Linked DNA regions of Homo sapiens: region 2 is linked to region 1. Evidence: fine-mapped expression QTL. A gene starts in region 1. The other region holds a variant in brackets. All regions are shown on one strand. Distances are between the middles of the regions.

Region 1 (2,907 bases):
CCACTGCACTCCAGCCTGGGCAACAGAGCGAGACTCCAACTCAAAAAAAAAAAAAACAAAAAAAACGACATTTCTACTTTTTGGCGATTATGAATAATGATGCTATGAACATGGGCGGACAAGCTTTATGTGAACATACGTTATCAGTTTTCTTGGGTATATAGCCAGGAGTGGGCTTGCTGGGTCATAGACTAATTCTAATGCTTAATGTTTTGAGGAACTACCAAACTATTTTCCACCATTTTACATCCCCACCAGCAATGTACGAGAATTTCACTATTACATTTTCAACAAATGAGGATAATTCTTGAACGAACAGAGAGGTATGCTGCCACCGCAGAACGACAACCCACTACCCAGAAGACTGTATTAACAAAGCAGAAGTATATGTCCGGCAGGAAAACGGAGAATAAAATGTTGCAGGTCCAAGTGTATTAGGCAAGTGAGTTAACCTCGCAGAGCCCCGGTTCCTTATTCGAAAACAAAAAAAAGGGCCGCTGTAATGCCATTTTACCTTGCAGTCGCCGTGAAAATTAAATCAGTCAATCCGCGTAAAGGTACTTTACAACACTGATTATTCATGATTCGATCTCAGGCAAGGCATTAGGGGCAAACAGCTAAATGCCCAGATCCCTCCTCCTCGCAAAGGTTCCTTCCCCTCGGGAGGGTCCCTGAGCGGCATCGGGGGCTGCAGCCACTTCCCTTCCCCGGGAGAGCCGGCCTGCCAGCCACGCAGGATAAATTGCTAGAGCTGGAGCAGTAGATCCGTGCCACCCCTACCCAGCACCGCTCCCAGGAGAGAGATCTGCAGCCTGCTGCTAAGCTTAGTAAGTCCGCGCAGGATCTTTCTTTTTTAAATGGTAATAAACATATTTTTTGGGGTCGAAGCAGAAAAGGAGGGGCAAAGGGAACACAAGCATGTCCCCCCAACCTCTGATCTTAGTCTCGGTCTCTCCAACACCCCCCGCAACACACCCTCCTCCACATAAGGAAAACAAGTATGAAACCCGATCCTTTACGAACCCCAGCCCCAAGGGCCCTCACCTCCCCGCAAGGACAGAGGGTGCAAAGCTTACCTGGTGGCTTCCTCCGGCTCGACCAGGCTCTGGCCAGGCGCCTCCCGAGGGATAGTAGCCATCGCCTCCTCCGCCTTCTCCCAGCCAGGTGGTCTCCGCCGGGCCGCCCCCGCGCACCCGCCAGGAAATGGGAGGCTGGGGAGGTTCAGGGCGAAGAGGATATAAGGGTGGAGGTGGGTGTACCGGCACATCTCCACCCCCAGGCCCGTAGTAGCGGCCGTAGGACGGACCGTCACTGGGGCCGTAGCCCGAGCGCCTCAGGGCCGACATGGGATCCGCTGCCCTGAAGCGCTTCCCGCCCCGCTCCCCACGGCCGACCCATCGCGCAGGCGCCCGCGGGCGATTGCGAATGGAGAGCAGCGAAGGGGGTCGGACGACGCCAGCCAATCCCAGGCCCGGGCCCGCCCCTTCTGCTGCCGAACCCCGAAAGCTGAGGGACGGAGGTCAGTGACTCTGGGGTCTCGGGAACCCGGAGACGAAGGAAGACACCGTGTTCCTTAAGAGGGAGTATACGTTTCCTCGCCATTTATCCAATGGAGTTTCCTCTTACCTACTTAACAGGAACAGGGAAAGGGTGTCCCCCAACGGTACGGCTGCCCCGCCTCTTCCTGGGGGCCCACACGTGTTACAGGAAGTGGGTAAGGGTAATATGGAGGAGCTTCCGGCAGCCCCCGGCGGCTGAAAGCCGGGGCAGAAGTGCTGGTCTCGGTCGGGATTCCGGGCTTGGTCCCACCGAGGCGGCGACTGCGGTAGGAGGGAAGAGGTTTTGGACGCGCTGGCCTCCCGCCGCTGTGCATTGCAGCATTATTTCAGTTCAAAATGAACTATATGCCTGGCACCGCCAGCCTCATCGAGGACATTGACAGTGAGTAGTTTATCTCCTCCCGGTGGAGCCCGGGGTTAGACCCTTCCTCCCGGGCGGGCGCCTCTTCCGAAGAAGCTTGTAGAATGAGTCCCGGGCGGGGCCGGTGTGTTCTGAGCTCAATCCGGGCGTTCCGCGTCGATGTCCTCCACAGCTGCGGTACACACCGCTTGCCCACCCAGTAGCCTGCTGCTACTTCTGCCCCTCGCAGCCTCCGCCAGCCCTCTAGCTGGTGAGCCCCAAGCGATGGAACTCATTCTTGCTTCCGTGGATCGCGGCAGCAGAGGCCCGAACACGAAAGAAGCCCGGGGAGGGGGGGGGCTTCTCCCCCGTCCACTCCTGCCTGCAGTATTTCGAAGTATCAGCGTGTTACCGGTGGATGGATCGGAATACCTAGAGAGAGGATTCATTAAAAAGCGAAAATATTAAGACAGCGGCAGTTGGACTTAATTGGCAGTAAATGTAGGCGCTCTACGGTGTGGCCATTTGCTAGCTTATTTTACTGTGAGGGTCATTAGCACCTTCAGGTTATTGTAGTAGAGACCACTGTTAGACATGGTATTGACTTTTCTGGAAAGACCAAATCACTTGCAACCTTTTTTTTTTTTTTAAGACAATTTACTTTTGCTTTTACTAAGAAGACCTCCCTTATTCCTGGTTTTTGTCCGGAAGAGGAGCTCAGTCCTATACAAAAGCGAAAAGAACCGTCTGCAGTTGTTCTGGCTTTCCTTTTTTCTAAATTCCGTCTGTGCATTATTCCTCAAGCAACATTTTTTATTGTTTTAATCATGTGATCTTTCTCATTAACTTGTTTCAAGATGATTTACACATAGTTTTAAATAAGTTGCAATCGTCTCAGTTACTCTGTGAATACGCAATTTAGAATCTATGGTTAAAATTTCATTTTACGGGCCTGGCGCGGTGGCTCACGCCTGTAATCCCAGCACTTTGGGGGGCCGAGGCGGGCAG
Region 2 (2,907 bases), 220 kb before region 1:
GTGATCCGCCCGCCTCAGCCTCCCAAAGTGCTGGGATTACAGGCATAAGCCATCGTGCCCAGCCAAAATTGGGTTTTAAAAATGCATATGCTTAATATATTAACAACAGTTGAAACATGAAGCCCCTCAACTTCTTGGAAAGATTAAAAAACACAATTATAACTATTCTACAAACATGCACATGTACCCCTGAACCTAAAATAAAAGTTTTTTTTAAAAACCGTTATACAGGAAAATATATAACAAATTTCAGAATACTGACTAAAGTTGTACAGTAAGTCGGTTGCAGACAAGAAACTGGTTCTCACCAGCAGTTATTATTCCTACTCTGGGATTTTTAAGATGAAGTTTACGTTGAATTTAAATAGTTGAGTTCCCAAATAGTTCATTTTAATTTCACATTTTCTTTCTCAAATATGATTCTTGCCTACCCTTCGTCTCTCTCGTCTGGTCAGGACCTGTCCATGCAACAGCCTCCAAACCATTCTGGCAGCAACTTTGGCGTCAATCCAAAGTAAGTAGAATCCATTGTAATAATATTTTAGTTCATCCATGATTTTTTGTCTATAAGATTGTTTGCCTTCTTTAATCTCCATGCCAGTTTCTTTTGTGGCCTGAGGGCTTGTCACCTGTGGATGTTTTGTGGCTTGCTCCAGCTGAGGTTTGCCAGGAACTTCTTGCAGCCAGCAAGTGGATGTGTGTAGCTTTTGTATTAGTCTAGTTCCTGGGTGAAGTACTGTATTGCCTGGCTGACTAGGATCCGAGTACTTCTTGCTCTCATAGTTCTTCATACATGTCTTATTTAAATGGGAATCTGGCAAGTGAAGAAATGCACATGATGGGGAATAAGAAGAGCAGGTAGGATGGACAAAATGGCTAGGGAATCTGGAATAAAAAGCAACATCCTCTGAGTTAAGTACATACTATTACAAAGCACACACTATCATAAAGCACATATTATTAAAGAAATAGATAGTACATCTGGTCAAAATAAAACAGCTTTTTTTTTTTTCCACTCCCATTGCCCAGGCTGGAGTGCAGTGGTGCAATCTCGGCTCACTACAACCTACGCCATCTGGGCTCAAGCGATTCTCCTGCCTCAGCCTTCTAAGTAGCTAGGATTACAGGCACAGGCCACCATGCCCAGCTAATTTTTGTATTTTTAGTAGAGTCGGGTTTTCACCACATTGGCCAGGATAATCTCAAACTCCTGACCTCAAGTGATCCGCCTGCCTTGGCCTCCCTAAGTACTGGAATTACAGGCATGAGCCACCATGCCTGGCCAAGGAATATTGTTTCAAAGAAACATTTGATGGTCACTGTAGGAATTAACCAGTCACATAATACCGCCTTGCCTATGCAGTGTCTTTGAACCCCTCAAATGAGAGGAACTTACAGCTGAAATACCCTTCACCTAAATTCTTCTAGAACATTGGGCTGGCCGCGATGGCTCATGCCTGTAATCCCAGCGCTTTGCGAGGCCAAGGCAGGTGGATCACCTGAGGTCAGGAGTTCAAGACCAGCCTGGCCAACATGGTGAAACCCTGTCTCTACTAAAAATACAAAAATTAGCCGGGTGTGGTGTCATGCACCTGTAATCCCAGCTACTAGGGAGGCTGAGGCAGGAGAATCGCTTGAACCCAGGAGGTGAAGGTTGCAGTGAGACAAGACTATGCCACTGCACTCCAGCCTGGGCAACAGAACAAGACACCGTCTCAAAAAAAAAAAAATTAGAATTGGGCA[C/T]CCCAATTAAGGGTCTCTAGCTTCTGGTATTGCAACAGCCCACAGTTTGCAGTTAAACTACCATATCAGATTGTTTGAGAATAAAAATATGGGCCAGGCACAGTGGCTCACGCCTGTAATCCCAGCACTTTGGGAGGCCAAGGCGGGCGGATCAAGAGATCGAGACCATCCTGGCCAACTTGGTGAAACCCCATCTCTACTAAAAATACAAAAATTAGCTGGGCGTGGTGGCACGTGCCTGTAGTCCCAGCTACTCGGGAGGCTGAGGCAGGAGAATCACTTGAACCTGGGAGGCAGAGGTTGCAATAAGCCAAGATCGTGCCACTGCACTCCAGCCTGGCGACAAAGCGAGACTTGTCTAAAAAAAAAAAAAAAAAAAAAAACTAAAATAAAATAAAATAAAAATATGACAGATACTGGCAAAGAAAGTTACTGGCAAAGAGATGTCTTTTTCCATTCTTTCAGTTTTTTGGTTTTTTTTTTTGTTTTTTTTTTTTTTTTTGAGACAGGAGGAGTCTCACTCTGTCACCCAGGCTGGAGTACAGTGGCATGATCACGGCTCACTGCAGCCATGACCTCCTAGGCTCATGTGGAAGAAATCAACACAAGTTCTCAACAGCTATAGAATTAAATGCATATGCAATATTCATTATTTTAGAACATGCCAAAAACAAAACCAAAAACAAAAGCAAAAAAAATTTGTCGCCAGGCACGCTGGCTCATGCCTGTAATCCCAGCACTTTGGGAGGCTGAGGAAGGTGGATCACGAGGTCAAGAGATCTAGACCATCCTGGCCAACATGGTGAAACCCCATCTCTACCAAAAATACAAAAATTAGCTGGGCGTGGTGGAGTGCACCTGTAGTCCCAGCTACTCGGGAGGCTGAGGCAGGAGAATTGCTTGAACCCAGGAGGCGGAGGCTGCAGTGAGCCAAGATTGCGCCACTGCACTCCAGCCTGGTGACAGAGCAAGACTCTGTCTCACAAAAAAACAAAAAACAAAAAACAAAAAAACAAAAATAAAAAATTTGTCTTGGTTCTTTTTTTTTTTTTTTTTTTTTCTGAGACAGAGTCTCACTCTGTTGCCCAGGCTGGAGTGCAGTGACGCGATCTTGACTCACTGCAACCTCCGCCTCCTGGGTTCAAATGATTCTCCTGCCTCAGC

Alleles and levels. Positions count from the first base shown, and alleles are read on the strand shown. Sizes are in standard deviations (SD) of each study's normalised expression.
In carriers of allele C in region 2, the expression in atrial appendage of the gene that starts at base 1,361 in region 1 tends to be higher than with T alone (small effect, 0.29 SD a copy in GTEx).

Evidence for each region. PIP is the estimated chance that this variant, and not a neighbour inherited with it, causes the effect. A credible set is the group of variants that fine-mapping cannot tell apart.
Region 2: its variant is the best candidate, but not a certain one, in a credible set for the expression of BAG4 in atrial appendage (GTEx, PIP 0.81).

The regions. Positions count from the first base shown.
Region 1 is chr8:38,175,309-38,178,215 of GRCh38, reverse strand. It overlaps BAG4 (BAG cochaperone 4), which reads right to left and starts at 1,361. Exons shown (of 5, transcript NM_004874.4): 1 at 1,077-1,361. The coding sequence starts at 1,346. LSM1 (LSM1 homolog, mRNA degradation associated) reads left to right here and starts at 1,723. Exons shown (of 4, transcript NM_014462.3): 1 at 1,723-1,941. The coding sequence starts at 1,896. RefSeq lists enhancers at 419-758, 1,669-1,818, 1,040-1,897, 2,229-2,318, 1,898-2,755.
Region 2 is chr8:38,390,520-38,393,426 of GRCh38, reverse strand. LETM2 (leucine zipper and EF-hand containing transmembrane protein 2) reads right to left here. Exons shown (of 11, transcript NM_001286819.2): 3 at 432-885. Among named protein-coding and RNA genes, the nearest start is that of LETM2, 5.5 kb to the right of the region's middle. RefSeq lists an enhancer at 2,164-2,665. The variant C/T (reference allele first, on the strand shown) is at 1,744.